Linked DNA regions of Homo sapiens: regions 1, 2 and 4 are each linked to region 3. The links come from fine-mapping of genetic effects on gene expression. A gene starts in region 3. Each other region holds a variant in brackets. All regions are shown on one strand. Distances are from middle to middle.

The links.
Region 1: its variant is fine-mapped to the expression of FCGBP in whole blood (Lepik 2017, PIP 0.95).
Region 2: its variant is fine-mapped to the expression of FCGBP in whole blood (INTERVAL, PIP above 0.99).
Region 4: its variant is fine-mapped to the expression of FCGBP in CD8 T cells (Kasela 2017, PIP 0.95).

What each region holds. Positions count from the first base shown.
Region 1 is chr19:39,896,328-39,901,473 of GRCh38, forward strand. It overlaps FCGBP (Fc gamma binding protein), which reads right to left. Exons shown (of 36, transcript NM_003890.3): 18 at 3,229-3,370. Among named protein-coding and RNA genes, the nearest start is that of FCGBP, 36 kb to the right of the region's middle. The variant T/C (reference allele first, on the strand shown) is at 2,742.
Region 2 is chr19:39,888,275-39,893,420 of GRCh38, forward strand. It overlaps FCGBP (Fc gamma binding protein), which reads right to left. Exons shown (of 36, transcript NM_003890.3): 21 at 4,637-5,146; 22 at 3,369-3,912; 23 at 1,205-1,797. Among named protein-coding and RNA genes, the nearest start is that of FCGBP, 44 kb to the right of the region's middle. The variant G/A (reference allele first, on the strand shown) is at 3,143.
Region 3 is chr19:39,931,903-39,937,048 of GRCh38, forward strand. It overlaps FCGBP (Fc gamma binding protein), which reads right to left and starts at 2,732. Exons shown (of 36, transcript NM_003890.3): 1 at 2,662-2,732. The coding sequence starts at 2,716.
Region 4 is chr19:39,867,516-39,872,661 of GRCh38, forward strand. It overlaps FCGBP (Fc gamma binding protein), which reads right to left. Exons shown (of 36, transcript NM_003890.3): 32 at 4,563-5,136; 33 at 2,701-2,900. Among named protein-coding and RNA genes, the nearest start is that of FBL, 24 kb to the left of the region's middle. RefSeq lists an enhancer at 1-113. The variant G/T (reference allele first, on the strand shown) is at 2,957.

The DNA.
Region 1 (5,146 bases), 36 kb before region 3:
GTTTTTTTGAGATGGAGTCTTTCTCTGTCACCCAGGCTGGAGAGCAATGGTACAATCTCGGCTCACTGCAACCTCTGCCTCCTGGGCTCCAGTGATTCTCCTGACTCAGCCTCCTGAGTGGCTGGGATTATAGGTGCCCACCAGCATGCTTGGCTGATTTTTGTATTTTTAGTAGAGACAGGGTTTCACCATGTTGGCCAGGCTGGTCTCGGGCTCCTGACATCAAGTGATCAGCCAACCTTGGCCTCCCAGAGTGTTGGGATTACAGGCATGAGCCATCATGCCCAGCCTGCTATTTTCAAGACCAGCCCCTGGGAGTCCCACACAGCTGACACTGAGGCCCCATGGGGGACTGTGTCTAAGTCTCGGCTGTCAAAGGTCCCATACCTGAGACCTGGGCCCCAGAGGTCTGTACAGCCAAGACCCAGTACCTAGAGTTCCCCTACTTCTGAGACTGAGGCCCTGCCATTTGCTGTGTGAGACTGAGATCCTGGAGTCCACGCACCTAAGACCAAGGTAAAGACCAAGGCTCTGGGTCTGTGTTTAAGGTGCACTTTCCATGGTGCCCTTGCTTGAGATTTCACCCTGTTCTTGTATTTTAAGTTTTATAGGAACCTCACCGTCTTCACTTACATAGGCTACGGCTGCTTTCACACCACAGTGGCAGAGTGAGTAGTTGTGATCCAGAAGGTATAGCCTGCAAGCTTAAACACTTACCATCTAGCCCTTTAGAGAAAAGGTGCACTTGACCCCAGTTGAGATCTGTGCCCCAGGGGTCCTTGTGTCTGCGATGCCAGCCCTGAGAGCATCCATGTCTGAGATCCCAGCCCCAGGGTTCTCTGTGTTCAAGACCTGGGCCCCAGGCCAGGTGTGGTGGCTCAGGCCTGTAATCCCAGCACTTTAAGAGGCTGAGGTGGGAGGATAGCTTGAGCCCTGGAGTTTGAGACTAGCCTGGGCAACATAGTAAGACCCCATTTCTACAGAAAGATTAATAAATTAGCCAGGCGTGGTGGTGTGTGCCTGTAGTCCCCCACTACTCGGGAGGCTGAGGCGGGAGGATTGTTTGAGCCCAGGAAATCGAGGCTGCAGTAAGCTACACTACACTCTAGCCTGGGCCACAGAGTGAGACCTTAGCTCAAAAAAAAAAAAAAGATCTAGGTCTCAGGGTCCCCCATGCCTGAGACCTCAGCCCCCTGGACATCTCCACATTTGATAGAAATTGGTCTCCAATTTCTCTAGGTCCTGGAGGCCTCTGTGCCCAAGACTAGGGCCCTGGGGTGATCTTCTGGCAAGAGCCCAGTGCCAGGGTCTCAGCAGGATTTGAAATGTTTGAGACCCTAACTAGCTAAGTCTCATGGGCTGGGCTCCCTCAGTGCAAGACTCCATCCCTGAGGGTTGCTGTATTCAAGACAGTAGCCTTGATCGTGTCTCACTGCTGAGGCCCTGTCCTGGGGGGTTTCTGTGTCCGAGACCCTGTTCGTACAGTTACTACATCTGTGACCCCAGCTTGCGGAACCCCTGTGTGGGAGAGGCCAGCCTTCAAACGTCTCCTTCCTCCTGTGTCCATTATCTATGTACCGCCTCTCAGCTTCAAATACACCCACGGAGTTAAGCTTTGTCAACAGAGGGCGCCGGAGAGTCACTGCAGGAGGGACGGTCTCCTGGTCTGGCTTCTAGCCAGTTTGGTCCTTCCAGCTCTGGCCAGGGTGCGGGGCCACATTCAGCGAGTGCCACTGGCCGCAGCTGGCTTCCCAGTGAGGGGTTCCCTTCTTGCCAAGTCCAGCCTGCAGAAACCTCTGTGCCACCCAGTGGGCTACAGCTGCAGTGAGACTGGACTCAGCCTTGGGGCTGATTCTCCCCTCCTTGAAGAGTAGGGGCCAATTTCTCCCTTCCATGAGGCTTTTACCTTAGCCCTAGAGTGGCGGCTACTTCCTGTGTGTGCTTTGGTGGTATTCTTTAGTGCTCTCTTTACCGTTTCTTATTTCTGTTTATTTGTTTGTTTGTAAAGAGACAAGGTCTTGCTGTCTTGCCCACGCTAGAGAGCAGTGGTGCAATCATATAGCTCACTGCAGCCTCGAAATCCTGGGGTCAACTGATCCTCCTACCTCAGCATCCTAAATAGCTGGGACCACGGGCACGCATCACCACACCTGGCTAATTTTCAATTTTTTGTGGAGACAGGGGTCTCGCTATGTTGCCCAGGCTGGTCTCAAACTCCTGGCCTCAAGTGATCCTCCCAAAGTTCTGGGTGTGTGAGCCACGGCACCAGACCCTCTTTACCCTTAATAGTTAATCTCCTATTAATAAGTAAGTGATTCTTTAATTAAACTTTCCTCATTCAAATGGCCATACGCTTTCTGTCTCTCGACTAGATGCTGAGTGATATACCCCCCATTTCTGGGAGTCCCCATTATCCTGCTCATCAGCCCTGAGAGTCTTAGCCCCCACTCCTTGGTGCTGGAGCTCCCATTCTCTTATCCTTAGGGGGAGGAGAGTTCTCTGCTCTTCACCCTAAGAAATGAGCCCTGGGGGTGGCTGTGTCCCAGATTTAGTCTGGGGGATTCCCACATCAGAGACTATACCCCCAGAAATCCTGATCTTCCAGTTAAGAGGGGTCCCCATATCCAATGTCCTGCCTTGGTGAGGTCTCCGTGCGTGAGACTCAGAACTCTGCTCTCTGTCCCTGCCCCTGGGATCCCAGTCTCTCCCCTGCCCTTTGGTGCTAGTGTCTGAACCCCAAG[T/C]CCAATCCCACACATCAGTGTTCCGCTCATGATGGCCCCCTAGGCTGCTGCTCTTGTATTCTAAAGTCTTATAGGAGCCTGACCTCTTCACTTACATAGTCTACGGCTGCTTTCATGCCACAGTGGCAGAGTGAGTAGCTGGAACGAGAACCTACAGCCTGCGAGCTTAAACATTTACCATGTAGCACATTAGAGCAAAGGCGCGCCTGTCCCTGCCTTATACCGAGGGTCTCTGACATCCACCCTGAGAAAACTATCTCTGAGGGTCCCCACAGCCTGGATTTTCCCTAAGGGTCCCTACCTCCCAAAGTAGGTGGCCCTGGCCCTGTGAAACCTGGTCTAGGGTTCCCCAGGTCTGCAACCTCAATCATTAGTCCTGTACACCTCCCGCCATGGACACCCCAGTTACACTACCCTCAGCCCCAGAGTCCCCATCCTCCATCCCTAGTCCCATCAGCCCCAGTCCCAGCCCAGCCCAGCCCAGCACCTTTGGTGACGCAGCTCAGGATGCCTCCGGAGGGCTGGCACACCTGCCCCGGCTTGCAGCTGTGTTCCTGGCACACCACGACTTTACCCGCATGGCACGTGCACTGCTGCCGACAGTTGTCAATGAGGACTGTCTGCTCCGGCTGTGGGGAGAGAGGGAACGGCCATCAGGGACACCACGGGTGGGAGCCGACTCTCACATCTCTGGCGTTCTGGCACAGAGGGGTTTGGCAGACATCACAGACAAGGGACATCTCTCAGCAGGATGGCCCCTTGTCTGTGAAGCTGAGGCACAGCATGGCTTTGGGGCCATCATTCATTGGTTCATTCACTTTTCTTCATTTACTCATTCATTCCAAAATATCCACTCAACGTCTGCTGTAGGAGAAATGGTGTGACACAGTAACTAAGGGCAGATCGCCTGGGCTTGAAGCCCGTTTCTGCTGTTTCCAAAGTGTGTGACTCTGGGCAGTTACTTCACCTCTTTATGGCTCAGTTTCATGATCTGCAGATTGCAGATGATAGTAGCGCCTGCCTTTGGAAATATAACTGAGTTATATTCAGATAATAACCAAGTTATATTCAGATAATAACCAAGTTATATTCAGACATGTAAAATTCAGATAAAATGAAAAGGGTAGGCCGGGCGCGGTGGCACATGCTTGTAATCCCAGCACTTTGGGAAGCCGAGGCGGGTGGATCACGAGGTCAGAAGATTGAGACCATCCTGGCTAACACGGTGAAACCCCGTCTCTACTAAAAATACAAAAAATTAGTCGGGCGTGGTGGCGGGCGCCTATAGTCCCAGCTACTCGGGAGGCTGAGGCAGGAGAATGGTGTGAACTCGGGAGGCGGAGCTTGCAGTGAGGCAAAACTGCGCCACTGCACTCCAGCCTGAGTGACAGAGCGAGACCCCATCTCAAGGAAAAAAAAAAACAAAAACAGAAAAGGGTTTCCTTTAAAACATTCAGATAGGAGAGATACGTGGGGTAGACATCAAACAAGATCGGGAGAATATGGCTTATTTTTGAAGCTAAGTGATGGGTAAGTACATGGACAGTCATTCCACTATTCTCTTAATTTTTGCATGTTTGAACGTTTTCAGAATAAAAAGTTTTTAGATATGTAATGCATATATAAAAATATGCACACATAGCACTTAAAACGGTACCAGATACATAGTAAGCACTATCTACACATTTTCTGTTATTATTAATATTATTTATGTGAGGAGAACAACAGAGAGAGGGTTCCACCCCTAGGAGAGCTCACAGTCCCCAAGGGAGATGGACATTAGACAAACACATGCTCCAGTCAAAGAAAAAGGACCTACGGGGACAGAGTGGGAGAGGGAAGTAGAGGGTGTTAGCAGCTGGTATAACACATGGAAATCTTGTCTTTGTGGTCAGAAAGGCTCCCTTCGTCCAGACCTGGAAGGCAAAGCCACAACTTGACCTGGGGAGTCAGGGGAGGGTTTAAAGCTTCAGAGCCCGTGGTCATATTTAGAAAGATCTTTACCACTGCCACGTGGAGGGTGGACCAGAGGGAGCAGAGGTAGGAGCTGGGAGGGACCCAGGTAGGAGAGGACCAGCTGGACCAAGGGAGGGCCATGGGGACAGGGAAAGGAGTGGGTACAAGAGACACTGAAGAGACTGAGTGGACTAGCTGTGGTGGCTCCCGCCTGTAATGCTCGCACTTTGGGAGGCCAAGGCAGGAGGATCACTTGAAGTCAGGAGTTCGAGAGCAGCCTGGCCAATATGGCAAAACTCCACCTCTACCAAAATACAAAAAAATTAACCGTGTGTGGTGGCACGTGCCTGTACTCCTAGCTACTCGGGAGGCCGAGACAAGAGAATTGCTTCAACCTGGGATGCTGAGGTTGCAGTGAGCTTGAACCCGAGAGGCGGAGGTTGCACTCC
Region 2 (5,146 bases), 44 kb before region 3:
CCTGTGTATTTAGGCGCTGTATGTCAGGGGCTATTCTAGGAGCTTGGGAAACATTAGGGAATATATTCAATTAAGTCCTGCATGTCGGCCGGGCACAGTGGCTCATGCCTCTATTCCCAGCACTTTGGGAGGCTGAGGCCGGCAGATCACTGAGCTCAGGAGTTGGAGACCAGACTGGCCAACATGGTGAAACCCGTCCCCACTAAAAATACAAAAATTTCCTGGGCATAGTGTTGCACACCTGTAATCCCAGCTACTCTGGAGGCTGAGGCAGGAGAATCACTTGAACCAGGGAGGCAGAGGTTGCAGTGAGCCGAGATCGCGCCACTGCACTCCAGCCTGGGTGACAAAGCCAGACTCTGTGCCAAAAAAAAAAAAAAAAAAGTCACGCCTGTCCAGTTCGCCAGATTAAGTCAGTAATTGATCAGCACCTTCGCCAATACTGCCACTAGAAAAACAGCTGCGTGTCTGTTTCAGTGGGATCTCAGGGGAAACCCCTCCACTGTAACTCAGATGCCAGTCTCCACATGAGACCAAATCTTCTCAGTAAGAAAAGCACTGCAGAGCAGCACGGGGTTCAAGCTCCACCTTTGCTGGGGGACTATGGGCCAGTGATGGGCCATCCCACTCTGAAAAATAAAGCAAGTCATAGTGCCTGCAGTCCCTGTTGCAAGCATACAGACACCATGGACGTGAAGTGCCTGGCAGCCAAAAGGTGTGCAGTCAGCTGTATAGAAACTATAGCTGCTGTTGTTGTTGTTAAGGCGGTGAGAGTGTCACCCACAGATTGTCCTCTGTCCATGAAGCTTCTCAAACTCGGACTTTCTCAACCTCTGATGGCACCACGTCCTGCCAATAAGTGGCAGACTAGGGAGGTGAGTAGGGCAGAATCCAGGACTGAGGTGGAGAGAGGATGGAGTGGGAGGGAGGAGAGGGTGGGAGAAATTTGGAGAGAAAAGTCAATGCATGGAGGTAAAGAGAGGGTGGAGACTGAGGGACAGAGATGGGGGAGCAGCTCCCAAGTCCCTGATGACACCTCCCTCATTGGCTTCCCACTCGGTTCTGACTGGCATCTTCTGTCCTCAGAGACCCCAGGCCTCGCACATGCACTCTCATCTCTTGTGCCCCCAACTCCTGGGCTGAGCGCTGCCTGTGCCCCACCTACCCACAGGCCCCTCGCCCCCTGCTCCCCATCTGCTCTCACCGTGACCTTCCACTGTCTCTGCTCCAGCCGCAGGGTGAAGTTTGCCACCTGGACCGTGATCACCCTGGTCACACTGACTCGCCCATTACCCCAGGCCACGTTCTCCTGCAGGACGGCAAACCGATGCAGGCCAGGCCGGGTGCCGCAGGTCTGAGCCAGCACATACACGCAGGTGCCCATGAAGTCGAAGCGGTGGCCATCGAAGGTGGTGTAGTGGGGATCTCCCGACGCCTGGCAGGTGGTAGAGCCCACGGCCACGCAGCCCAAGCTGCCACCGGATGGCCGGCAGGTCTCATGCGGGCCGCAGCTGGAGGGCTCACAGGACACCTCACCGCCCTCCCGGCAGCGGCAAAGGGAATCACACCCAGGGCCAGGGTAGAAGGTCTGGCCCAGTGGGTAGTAGCGGTCATCGTGGAGGCAGCCACACTGGCCCACAGGTACACACGTGTCACCACTGAGCACGAAGCCAGCATCGCAGACACAGCCTTCACGGCAGGCCGACTCACAGCCCTCGGGTGCCGACAGGCTCGGGCAGCTCCCAGGACAGGAGTCACCGCAGAGCTCGTAGTGGCTGTGGGCAGGGCACTGGAAGGCTGTGGGGACAAGGTGGGCATCAGCCAGGTAGGTGTTTGAGTCGCAGTCTTGGGAGGCCCTGAGTGGGAAAACTGCTCAGGCCAACTTGGGCGTCTCTGGGCATGCACATGTGATCCAGGACATCTAACTGGGGGACTCAGCGTGGGACCTGGAATGGGAGGGGACATGCCCAGGTCTCTCTGACCAAATATTTCTGAAGATCAAATGACTCTGCTTGGCTGATATTTTTTTTTTTTTTTTTTTTGAGACAGGCTCTCACTCTATCTCACCCAGGCTGGAGTGCAGAGGCGCAATCACAGCTCGCTGCAGCCTCCACCTAAACCTCAAGCAATCCTCTGGCCTCAGCCTCCCGATTAGCTGGGACTACAGGAGTAAGCCACCACATCTGGCTGATTTATTATTATTTTCTGTAGAGATGGGGTCTCACTATGTAAGCCAGGCTTACCTGGGTGAAATGGATCACTTATATCTATTCGGGGTATGCAGGATCAGAACTGACTATGGGCATCTCAGCGTGTGAATGTGACTGGGGTGTGGGGCCACATGTATCTCAGGGTATGGCTCTGCCTGAGGGCACCCAGCTGTGGGTGTCTGACATGCAGCATCTCCCAGAGTCCTTCTGACATGGTCTGCCTAAGGCTGTGCCTGGGTGAAGTTGGCAGGATACCTGTGACCAGGAGACCTGCCTGAAGGGAACCGCCTAGGACTATCTAACTATGCATCTGTGTGGATCTGCCCAAGGCTATGCCAGGATCCTGTTTCTTTCTGAGTGTATCTGACCAGTCAGTATAAAATTTAAGCAGATATCACTGAAGGTATGCGACTAATTCCATGTGACTAGGTGTATTTCAGTGTGTGCAACAGACCTGGGCCCTCTGACCAGCTGAAACTCACTAGGTCTTCCTAACAAGGGGTACTTTGCTATGTGACAGAGGCAGGGTCAGCCATCCCAATCTACATGCCTTGGATACCTGAAAGCATGGATCACCAATCCCTAAGAGTGTCCTGGACCCCAGGTTTCTTTTCTTTCTTTTTTTTTTTCTGTTGTTTGTTGTTTGTTTGTTTTTTGTTTTGGAGATGGAATCTCTGTCACCCAGGCTGAAGGGCAGTGGCACGATCTCGGCTCACTGCAACCTCTGCCTCCTGGGTTCAAGTGATTCTCCTGCCTCAGCCTCCTGAGTAGCTGAGATTACAGGTGCCCGCCACCACGCCCGGATAATTTTTGTAGTTTTAGTAGAGGTGGGGTTTCACCATGTTGGCCGGGCTAGTCTCGACCTCCTGACCTCAGGTGATCCGCCCGCCTCGGCCTCCCAAATTGCTGGGATTACAGGCGTGAGCCACCGC[G/A]CCCACACTCTGACTAGGTGTTTCTAACTGACTCTCTCTCACTGCAGTACCTGACTTGGGGCATTTCAGTGTGTCAGTGCCAAGGTGTTTCCTGACAGTAGATACCGAGCTCGGGAAGGAAAGTGGCCCCTGAGCCCCATGGAGGAGGAAGGGGCTGCTGTCCTACAGTCCTGGGAAGGGCAGGGAGAGACCCAACCATGTGGACCATGCATGGAGCAGTACTCACGACAGAAGTCCGGCCGCCTCCACTCGCGGAGCTGGGCCCCAGCGGCCTGACAGGCTGCCACGTAGGTGGCCACTGCAGGACAGAGGCCTCCAGGATGGCCCTGAACTTGGCAGGCGTCCAGCAAGCAGCCCTGGAAGTACTGCGCGGGCGGCACAAGGCCGTGGCAGGGCGCCAGCGGGCCGTCGGTGGCGGAGATCACGCCGCAGGCGTCCGGGCCGCCGAAGGACTCTTGCTGCTCTGGGGTGCACGGCGACGGGCATGGCTTGGACACACATTCCCCGCAGCCCTGGGCGCCGCCCACCTGCCATCCGGCGGGCTTCCCGCCCACCGCCTTCAGGTCGTCTGCGGGGTCCTGGTTGTAGTTCCCGCATAAGCCACAGAGAGAGCCCGCGTACGCCGCCGGCACGCGCAGGCGCACGAAGCTGTCCCCATCGAAAGCCAGCGAGAGCCCTGAGGTTGTGGTCACCACCACGTCGGCGCCGCTCAGGTGTGCGTGCAGGAGCGAGTCCAGCTGGAAGGGCAGAGTGACGAACACGCCGTCCACCTGTGGGCAGTGGGGGAGCGGTGAACGGAGCAAACACGGGTTTGAATCCTGGCCCCACTACCTACTAGCTGTGGGACCCAGAGCATGTCACCTCCCGCTGAAAATAATAATGAGCATCTATAGGCCGGGCCTGGTGGCAAAGCCTGCAATCCCAGGACTTTGGAAGGCCGAGATGGGAGGATCGCTTGACGCCAGAAGTTCAGATCAGCCTGGGCAACATAGTGAGACCCCCATCTCTACAAAAAAATGAAAAATTAGCCAGCGTGGTGGCGTGTGCCTTTAGTCACAGATACTTGGGAGGTGGAGGCCAAGGCGGGAGGATCGATTCAGCCCACGAGTTCCAGGCTGCAGTGAGCCCTAATCCTGTCACTGCGCTCCAGCCTGGGCAACAGAGTCAGGCTAAGAAAAGAAAGAAAGAAAGAAAGAAAAGCAAGAAAGAAAAAAAGAAAAGAAAAACAAAGAGCCTCTACTGGCTCATGTCACTGACTCCTTATCCTTCTCGAAAACAGGTACTTTTCCTAGACCAGTTTACAGAGGAATACACTAGGCTCACAGAGGAAGAAGCTGCTGTGCCAAGCCATCAGGCTCCTAGGCGTACACTCTGACCCTTCCATCATGCCCCAGCTAAGCTGTGAAAGGGGCCCAGGGGAATGGTGAAGCCCTTACCATCTCAGGCAACCCCAGAGCTGGCACTTGCTCCTGTCTGGCCCACAGCCCTCCTCACCTGTAGCTTCCGGGGCCAGCGGGCACTCAGTGTCAGGCTGTGGTTGTAGATTTGCAGGGTGACACTGCGGGTGTAGCTGACAGCCTGGCTGCCCCGGTGCTCATTGGCTACAGTGACAGTGAAGTTCTCAGCCCCCAAGGGTGGTCCGTGGCAGGGTGCACTCAGCAGGTACTCGCAGGTGCCTTGGAAATCGAATCGGTGCCCATCCAGAGTGACGTAATGGGGGTCACCCCACGCCTGGCACTCAGCTGTGCTGACGGGCTGGCAGCCGTGCTGGCCGGATGGCAGGAGGCCACACACTTCACCCAGCCCACAGCTGGCAGGTGTGCAGACCAGCGAGCCACCCCCAGGCCCGCAGCGACACCACTGGGAGCAGGTGCCATCAGCCCAAAACTCACTGCCCGCCTCGTGGTAGGTGCCATTGGCCCAGCAGCCGCAGCCGTTGTTGAGGGGAACACAGCGGTCAGCACTTAACACGAAACCCGCGTCGCACTGGCAGCCCTCCACACA
Region 3 (5,146 bases):
CTGTCTCTACCAAAACTACAAAAATTAGCCAGGAATGGTGGCATGTACCTGTAATCCCAGCTACTCGGGAGGCTGAGGCACGAGAATCACTTGAACCTGGGAGGCGGAGGTTGCAGTGAGCCAAGATCGCGCCACTGTACTCCAGCCTGGGCAACAGAGTGAGACTCGGTCTCAAAAAAAAAAAAAAAAAAGGAATGAGATCCTGTCATTTGCAACAACATGGATGGAACTGGAGGACATGATGTTAAGTGAAATAAGCCAGTATAGAAAGACAAATTTCACATGTTCTCACTCATAGATGGGAATTTAAAATTTTTAACTGATGAACTCATAGAAATAGAGAGTAAAATGATGGTTACGATGATTACCACAGGCTGGAAAGTGTAGCGGGGACTGGGGGATAAGTAGATATGGTTAATGGGTACAAAAATACAGTTAAACAGTTAGATAAAATAGATAAAATCTAGTATTTGGTAGCAGAACAGGATGACTATTGTTGACGATAATTTATGGTATATTTTAAAATAACTGAGAGTGGAATTGGAATGTTCCTAACACAAAGAAATGACAAATGCTTGAAGTGAGGGATGCCCTAGTTACCCTGATTTTATCATTACACACTGTATGCCTGTATCAAAATATCACAGGTACCCCATAAATGCAAACCCATAAAAATTAAAAATTTTAAAAATATATAAACTAGTAAAAAAAAAAAAAGTGGATTGTTGGTACTAGCTTTCACCTGTTATAATGAAAGAATGTGAGCTTTTTTAAATTGTAAGACCTTCCTGTTTTTCTTTTTTTTTTTCTTCTGAGATGGAGTCTCGCTCTGTCACCCAGGCTGGAGTGCAGTGGCACGATCTCGGCTCACCACAACCTCTGCCTCTCAGGTTCGAGTGATTCTACCACCTCAGCCTCCCGAGTACTGGGACTACAGGTGTGCGCCACCAGGCACAGTTAACTTTTGTATTTTTTCTTTTTTTTCTTTTGAAATGGAGTCTCACTCTGTTACCCAGGCTGGAGTGCAGTGGCGCGATCCTGGGTCACTGCAACCTCTGCCTCCCGGTTTCCACGCCCAGCTAATTTCTGTATTTTTAGTAGAGATGGGGTTTCACCCTGTTGGCCAGGCTGGTCTCAAATTCCTGACCTCAGGTGATCCACCTGCCTCGGTCTCCCAAAGTGCTGGGATTACAGGCGTAAGCCACCACGCCTGGCCGTTCTTTCTGTTTTTAAAGAGAATGTGGCTATCTGAATTTTCATGTGAAATCTCCAACCCACAATTGTTTTAAGCACTTTGGGGCTCAAGGTGGATGTACTCTGCTGCCAGTGTATGATTTCCATCTTTTTACAAACTGGAGTGCAGTGGCTTAAACACAACACACTGCAGCCTCAACCTCCTGGGCTCAAGGGATCCTCCTGTCTCAGCTTCTGGTATAGCTGGGACCACAGGCACGCACTGTGTGCCTGGCTCATTTTTTAATTTTTTTCTAGAGGCAGGGTCTCACTTTGTTGCCCAAGCTGGTCTTGAACTCCTGGGCTCAAGTGATCCTCCTGCATCAGCCTCCCGAAGTGCTGGGATTACAGACGTGACCAACTGTACCCAGCTGGTTTTTGTCTTAATAGGACTTGTGGGGGCCAGGCGCGGTGGCTCTTGCCTGTAATCCCAGCACTTTGGGAAGCCAACGCGGGTGGATCACTTGAGGTCGGGAGTTCATGAGCAGACTGACCAACGTGGTGAAATTCCATCTCTACTAAAAATGCAAAATTAGCCGGACATGGTGGCATGGGGCGCCTGTAATCCCAGCTACTAGGGAGGCTGAGGCAGGAGAATCGCTTGAACCCAGGAGGTGGAGGTTGCAATTAGCTGAGATCACACCATTGCACTCCAGTCTAGGCAACAAGAGTGAAACTCCATCTCAAATAATAATAATAATAATAATAATAATAATAATAATAATGGGACTTGGGGGTTTGTGAAAAGGGGATAAAGAGAAGAAGGGGATTATGGAAGGGTGAATGAATTGTCTCCTAGAAATAGATGGCAGTGGGGGCTTCTGACCACCCCCAACTAGGAAGAGCGTCCCTGGGGCTGAGGAGAGAGAGGTCTAAGGAATCTTGAAGAGAGTGTGGGGGCTATGGAATGACCACCTTCCATATAAAGGGGGCTTTGAAGGATATCCCAGGGGGCCAGGGGATCAGGAACAATGGACATTTCAAAAGTAACCTAGATGGATGCTGACTGGTGACGAGAGGGTCCTCATATCCCATCCTCCCCCCAGTACTTTGGCTTTATCCAAAATTTTAGTTCTGGACACATCCCTGGGAGAAGTGGGGACAACACCCTCCAAGAATGACTTTCGTGAAATTTTCCATCAACTTAGCAGAATGAGGCTCAGAGTCAAAACCTTAGTTGAGTTGCAGAAAACCAAGAAAGTTCTTGCACACTTGAGTTTGGGGACTAAGGTTTTTGCCTGTGCTCCCATCCAGAAAAGGGTGAGAATTGGTGAATTCTACCACATCCCCCTGCAGAGCCTAAGGGCCTCTCTCCTGTCTCAGCTAGCCTGGGGTGACATGTGGAGGAGGCACACATGGAAGGCGTGGACCCACGCAGAGTTCCCCAGATTGGAACAAGGACATGGAGAGGGTCTTGGTCTGACTTACCCCACAGGAGGGTTGCTCCAGCCCAGAGTATCCACCAGCTCCATAGGGCACCCATGGCTGCAGTAGGAAAAGAGAAAGGATCATAGAAGGCTGATCCACCGCCTCTGCTGGAGACTGTCCTGGGCAGAAGGGCCCACTCTCATGACAAGGGCCACCTGGGACCATGAAGGCTGAGGTGGGGAAAGAAGTCGGGCAGATTGGGCCAGGGGGTATGGATCCAAGGACCAGTGTGTGTGTATAGGGGAGGCTGGCTGTCCAGCGGGTCTGGAGGTGGGTTGGGGAGGGCAGAAGCCAGGGACGGGGTGGAGAGTTGGCTGTCTTGTGGGTCTAGGGGTAGGATGAGGAGGCCTACAGTCAGGGGCAAGAGTAGGGGACCTGCTGTCCCACTTCCAAAGGGGACCCCAGCCCTTCTCACCTGCAGGTCCCTGGAGCTGCAGGGCCAGCCCTGTGGCAGGGCTATATAGTGGAGTTTCTGGGCCACACCCTGGGCCACGTGCCAGGCAGATGATGCCAACTTCCTGGAGGAGGCTGCCATCCTCATGGCCAGATGAAATGGGAAACTGTGAAGGCCTGGGAAGGAGGGACAGTGATTCTGGATGCCTGGGTTCCAAGAAGGGAGTGAGGACAGCTGGTGGCCATTCCCTGGAAGCCTTCTGGAGAGTTTGGTCCTGGAAGGGTGGGGTCCCTGAGGGAGACAGCTGGGGAGCAGGCAGATGAGCACCTGGGTCCCTGGGTGGAGGTGGGGTAGGGTGGGGGTGTGGGCAGTGAGGGTGGGAGGTGGCATGTGGTCATATTTGCTGGCTTAGTGGCTAGGTTCCTTCCTTTGGCTCCTGCCAGGAACAACAGTGAGGGACCCATATCCGGGTCCTGGTTCCTTCTCAGTCCCCACAGGCTGGGGAGTCCCTAGCCACCCACATCCTGCTTCCAGACACCACTAGGGGCAGGTGTCTGGGATGGGCAGGAGTCTGAGGCTATGGAGTGGGACACAAGACCTCCACCGCAGCCCAGTGGGGCGTCTGCGGTTTCTCATCTGCAAAATGGGAACACCAAAACCAGCCTCTCTGGGCATCTTTACGTCCCAGAGATGTAAAAAAATTCTCAAGGACTGTAGAGCTGGGGGGCAGCCTCCTCTGGTGTGGGCGCAGGCCAGGCTGCAGGTGGGCACTGGGACTGAGGCGGTGTGTGAAGAAGGGACAATGGCCTCTGTTTCCTGGTTCCACACAGACACCCAGATTCTACTTCTGATCCCAGACACCTGCTCCTCAGTGGTGCTGGAAACAGGATATAGGTGGCCAGGGACTCCCCAGCCTGTGAGGACTGAGGAAGAGCCAGGACCTGTTGGTTTTGGAGTTTTTTTGTGTGTAGGGAGGGTTTGCTCTTAGCAGGGGCTAGCTGAACAGGTTTAGGGGACTCTGTGCCTCTCCATCACCCCAGAATTTGCCTGAGATGGGAGGTGGAGGTCTAGGTTGCACACAAGGAGCAGAAGAATGAGCTGAAAGTTGGGCTTTCTCAGCTGGAGTCAGCTCCTCTGAGGGGCTGGCCTGACCCATGCCCTGCCTGCCTTCTCCCTGACTCAGGATCTCATTGTTTGCTGGGGGAGTCTCCCCTGGGACCAGCAGCTGCAAAGCCTGGGTGCTCTCTTGGACCAACACCCTAGCAGCTGCTGCCCCTGGGGCTCCTCCTCTCTTATCACAGCAGCCTGGGCCTCTGGGAGGCCAGAGCGGGTGGGGGGCTTCTCTCTCCCTGGAGCTCCAACCAATCCCCACGCCCACCCAAGAAACGTTCCTGGAGGGAAAGATAAAGGCTAAGAGTTGACTGGGACATAAAGTCAACCAGGAGAATGAGGTGAGTAAATAGGAGACTGGCTAAAAGCCAGAGATAACAAGAAACAAGCAGGGGCAGGGGACCCACAGGAAGTGGAAGCTTTGGGAAAAGGATGCCTGGGTCCCTGAGGGGTCTAAAAGTTGGTGGAAGGGGCTGCTGGGTCCCTGAGACAGAGAAGGACTCGGAGGAGGAGACGTCGGGATTCCTAGGAGGAAACAGCAATTGCAAACCAAGATGTGAAAATTCTCTGTCTGAGGCCAGGCGCAGTGGCTCAGCTTATAATTCCAGCATTTTGGGAGGCTGAGGCAGGAGGATTGCTTAAGGCCATGAGTTTGAGACCAGCCTGGTTCAAGACCAACATAGTGAGACCCTGTATCTACAAAAAAATACAAAAATTAGCCAGGCACGGTGGTGCACGCTTGTAGTCCCAGCTACTTGGGAGGCTGAGGCAGGAGGATCACTTGAGGCCACAAGGTCAAGACCAGCCTGGGCAACATAGTGAGACCCTTTCTCTACAAAAAATATAAAAATAAACCGAGTGTGGTGGCATGCACCTGTAGTCTCCACCATTCAGGAGGCTAAGGTGGGAGGATTGCTTGATCCTAGGAGTCTGAGGCTGCAGCGAGCCGTGATCATGCCACTGCATTCTGGCCTGGGGAGA
Region 4 (5,146 bases), 64 kb before region 3:
CTGACTACAGATATTATACATGAGTAAGCCCAGAGGATAGCAGAAGAACCACCCAGCCAAGTCCAGCCTAAACTGCAGTCACAAAATTGCAAACTAAATGAATAATTGTTTTAAGCCACAACGTTTTGGAGTGATCTGTAACCCAGCAAAAGCTAACTGATACAGGTAAGAAATGAAGAAATGTAATTAACAAAATAAATGCCATCTCTACAATGATGATTTCCACATCTCTAGGCCAGACCTCTCCCATGAAGGCCAGACTCACAAATCCAAGACTTCGGGCATAGGCAGAGGGGTCAGGGCAGAGATGGGGAAGCATAGGGAGCTGAGGGGTTCAGAGGAGGCACCTAACCCAGCCTAGGGGATCAAGGATGGCTTCCAGTAGGCAGTGAGACCTCAAGGAAAGAGCAAAATTTGGCTCCATTTGCAAGCAATGCAAGTTAGTGCTGCATGTTAATGGCTAGCCTCGGGCTGACTTCTCTATGTCACAATTTCTTCATCTGTAAAATGGGGAAAATAGTCATAGTATCTATTGCATAGGATTGTTGTGATTATTAAATGAATTAACATCCAGAACATGGCCGGGAGAGGTGGCTCATCCCTGTAATCCCAGCACTTTAGGAGGCCAAGGCAGGAGGATTGCTTGAGCCCAGGAGTTTGAGACCAGCCTGGACAACATAGCGAGATCCCATTTCTACATAAAAATTAAATAGTCAGCCAGGGATGGCAGTGTGAGCCTGTGGTCCCAGCTACTCAGGAAGCTGAGACAGAAAGATCGCTTGAGCCCAGGAGTTTGAGGCTGTAGTAAGCCGTGATCATGCCACCGCACTCCTGCCTGAAAGACAGAGTGCAATCCTATCTCAATAAATAAATAAATAAATAATAACACCCATAACAAACATGGTGCATAGTAAGAGCTCAAAAAAATTATTAACAAGAATAAATCAATTCTTCAATTTAATTCATATTATTAAACAATTATTAGCTGGGCTACCTATTTGCACTGTTGTAAACTGCTATTTCTTTTTTTTTCTTTTTGACATGGAGTCTCGGTCTGTTGCTCATGCTACAGTGCTGTGGCACAATCTCGGCTCGCTGCAACTTCCACTTCCCGGGTTCACGGGATTCTCCTTCCTCAGCCTCCCGAGTAGCTAGGACTACAGGTGTCCACCACCACACCCAGCTAATTTTTGTATTTTTAGTAGAGACGGGGTTTCACCATATTGGCCAGGCTGGTCTCGAACTCCTGACCTTTTGATCCGCCCGCCTTGGCCTCCTAAAGTGCTGGGATTACAGGTGTGAGCCACTGCGCCCCGCTGTAAACTGCTCTTTCTTTTTACTGAGTGTGATGAACATGCAGGGCAAGGCCCAGTGCTCAGTGGGTATCTTTCCTGTATAATCGGGCCTGATCCTCAGATACCTATGGTACAAAGATGGTGATTAGTCCCATTTTACAGGTGAAGAAAATGCAGTTCAAGGAGGGGCCAAATGATGCCCCCGCCCCAAGATATCAGGTCCTAATCCCTGTAATGAGTAAATGTCACCTTATATGGGAAAAGTGTGTTTGCAGATGTGATTGAATTAAGGATCTGAAGATGGAAAATTTCTCCTGGATTATCTGAGTGAGCCTTAGATGCAATCACGTGTATCCTTATAAGAGAGAAGCAGAGGGAGGTGTTATGACACACTCAGAAGAGGAGGCAGAGGTTGGTGTGATGTGGCCACAACCAAGGAAAACCTGCAGCAACCAGCAACTGGAAGAGGCAACAAACAGATTTTCCCCTAGATTTCTTTTTTCTTTTCTTTTCTTTTCTTTTTTTTTTTTTTTTGACATGGAGTCTCGGTCTGTCACCCAGGCTGGAGTGTAGTGGCGCAATCTCGGCTCACTGCCACCTCCGCCTCCTGGGTTCAAGTGATTCTCCTGCCTCAGCCTCCTGAGTAGCTGGGATTACATGCACGCACCACCATGCCCGGCTAATTTTTGTATTTTTAGTAGAGACAGGGTTTCACCATGTTGGTCAGGCTGGTCTTGAACTTCTGACCTCGTGATCCGCCCGCCTCAGTCTCCCAAAGTGCTGGGATTACAGGTGTGAGCCACCGTGCCTGGCTCTTTTCCTTTTTTCTTTAGAGGTAAGGTCTTGCTCTGTCACCCAGGCTGGAGTGCGGCAGCGTGATCATAGCTCACTGCAGCCTCCAACTCCTGGGGTCACGCCATTGTCCCACCTCAGCCTCTTGAGTAGCTGGGACTATAGGTGTGCACCACCATGCCCAGCTAATTAAAAAAACAATTGTATGTTGCCCAAGCTGGTTTTGAATTCCTGGGCTCAAGTGATCCTCCCGCCTTGGCCTCCCAAAGGGCTGGGACTGCAAGTATGAGCCACTGGGCATGGCCTCCCCTAGATTTCTCTGGAGGGAGTGCCACCTTGCCAACACCTTGATGTCAGCCCAGTATTCCTGATTTCTGACTTTTGGCCTTCAGAACTGTGGGAGAATGAATTTCTCCTGTTTAAGCTACCATGTCTGCGGTAATTGGTTACAGAAGCTGCAGGAGACTAATAGGGGGAGGTTGCCTGCATCAAGTCACATAGCTGGGATATGGCGGTACCTCCTCTGTCCCCAGCCTTGAAGAGGTCAGCACAGAATCTCTGGGTCTCTCTCAAGCTCTTCTACCCTCTCTGCCCACCCCAAGCCCCTACTCACCGGCAAGTATCGGCCATTATGGGTGCAGCCACAATCTTGGACAGGGATGCAGACACCCTGGGAAAGCAGGAAGCGGTCGTCGCACTCACAGCCCTCAAAACAGCGGGTGGTGCAGCCCGTGAGGCCGGAGAGAGCCGCACAGGATCCCTGGCAGGTGCGAGTGCAGATGGAGTAGTGGCTGTGGGCGGGGCAATGGAGCGCTGCAGAGAGAGGAGGCAGGGCTGAGTCACACCTCCAAAGGGTCCTGGATAACCAA[G/T]GGGGCCTACTGCACACCCAGCCCTGTTTTAGGCGGTGCTGAGGACACAAATACTGAGAAAAGTCTCAACCCCAGTCCTACAGAGCTCACTTCCAGTGGGACAGACAGGAAGAGCCCAAAGTGAACATGCTGCATCAGGGAGTGTAGACAGAGAGGTCAGGGTCAGGGTGGGGAGGCACAGGCAGAGGGGTCAGGGCAGGCATGAGGGGGCAAAGGCAGAGGGGTCAGGGCCAGGGTAGGGGGCTACAGACAGAAGGGTCAGGGCTGGGATGGGGAGGGCACAGACAGAGGGTTGAGGGCCAGGGTAGGGGGCACAGGCAGAGGGGTCAGGACCAGGGTCGGGGGCACAGGCAAAGAGGTCGGGGCCAGAGTGGGGGCACACAGGCAGAGGGGTCAGCGCCAGGATGGGGAGGGCACAAACAGAGGGTTGAGGGCTGGGGTTGGGGGCACAAGCAAAGGGGTCAGGGCTGGGGTGGGGGGGCAAAGGCAGAGGGGTCAGGGCCGGGATGGGGAGGGTACACACAGAGGGTTGAGGGCCGGGGTAGGGGGCACAGGCAGAGGGGTCAGGGCTGGGTAGGGGGCACAGGCAGAGGGGTCAGGGCCAGGGTGTGGGGGGCACAGGCAAAGGGGTCAGGGCTGGGATAGGGGGGCACAGGCAGAGGGGTCAGAGTTGGGACAGGGGCTATATGGACCCAAGGGAATTATCTGTGGTAAGTCCCTGGTCTCTGGCTAAGCAATTGGTGGAGGTGTGGCTGTTCTGCAATGCCCACCAGGTTTGGGGAAGGAGCATCAGGCTGGGGGTGAAATGCTGATTTTATTTGGGAACACAGCAGGTAAGAGGGACGGTAAGGACACCCAGGGGAAGGTGTCTTGGACACCCTAACAATTACCACAGACTTTGTAGCTTAAACAGGGGAAATTCATTCTCCCACAGTTCTGAAGGCCAGAAGTCAGAAATCAGGATCACTGGGCTGACAGTCAGGAGAGAGTTCAGGGCTTGAGACAGACAGACCAGGTCCATGGTCAACAATGAGAACAAATCTAAGGCCGCGGGTGTGGATGACCGCCCTGGGTATAGGTCCTGCCCAGGGGAGACCTGGCTCTGACCTGGAGCCGAAGGGGCCATTGCTTTTTCCTGAGAGTCTCTGGTGATGTCCCTCCCATGGGGAATTGAATGAGAGGTACAGTCCTAGTTTAGCGGGGTGTTTAATAGCCTGCAGCCTTGTCTTGGGGGGATCTGAGGGGATATGGTCTTGTCGGGGGTAGAAGGAGGGTCTGTGTGAGCCACAGATCTCCCAACCCATCCAACTCTCCCTTTCAGGTCACTGCAGAAAGAGTCCAGAATAGAACACTAGGGAAGAAGAGAATTTGAGGTTTGAGCAGAGTGGGCCCAGACAGGAGGCTGAGAAGGAACAGTCAGAGGGATAGCAGGGAAGCCAGTGGACTATGCCGTGGGAGAAGAAGTTGTGTGGGTGTGGGGTGGGAGGGGGTGGGGAGGGAGCGCTTTTACAGGGAGAAACCACTCCGACATGCAAATAGAAGGAATGGGCCAGGAGGGGCCCCTACACCTGGTCTAGAGTCCTGCGAGGGACCCACGGACACTCACGGCAGAAGCTGTCTGTCCTCCAGGGCTTCACGGCCACGCCAGCTGCCTGACAGGCCGCCGTGTAGGCTGCCAGGCTGCGGCACAGGAAGGCTTTGTCACCCTTTTGCGCGCACAGGTCGTATACGCATTGGCGGAAGTACTCAGAGGGACTCAGCACCGCCTGGCAGGTCGCGAAGGGGCCCTGGGGGTTCCGGAGCTGCCCGCAGGCCTCGTTGCTCTCATAGGGTGCAGTCTCCTCTGCCAAGCACACTGGGCAGCCTTGGGGCCCGCAGCCCTCGCCACAGCCCTTGGAGGAGCCGGGCGCCCGCCATGCAGCCCCGAAGGTCTCCACACTGGACGCTGCTGAGCCATTGGGCAGGACAAAGTCGTCACTCCAGTTGCCATTGAAGTTCCCACAGAGGCCACAGAGCCGTCCACGGAAGGGGCTGGGGATGGACATGAGGAGGTGGGCATCGCCATCAAAGAGAAGCCGCAGCCCCTTGGTCGTCTGCAGAACCATGTTTCGGCCCTCGGCGGTCACCCGCACGCGGCCCACAGCCACAGGCAGGGCCACAGCCTCGCCGTCCACGGTGACCTGGGTGGAA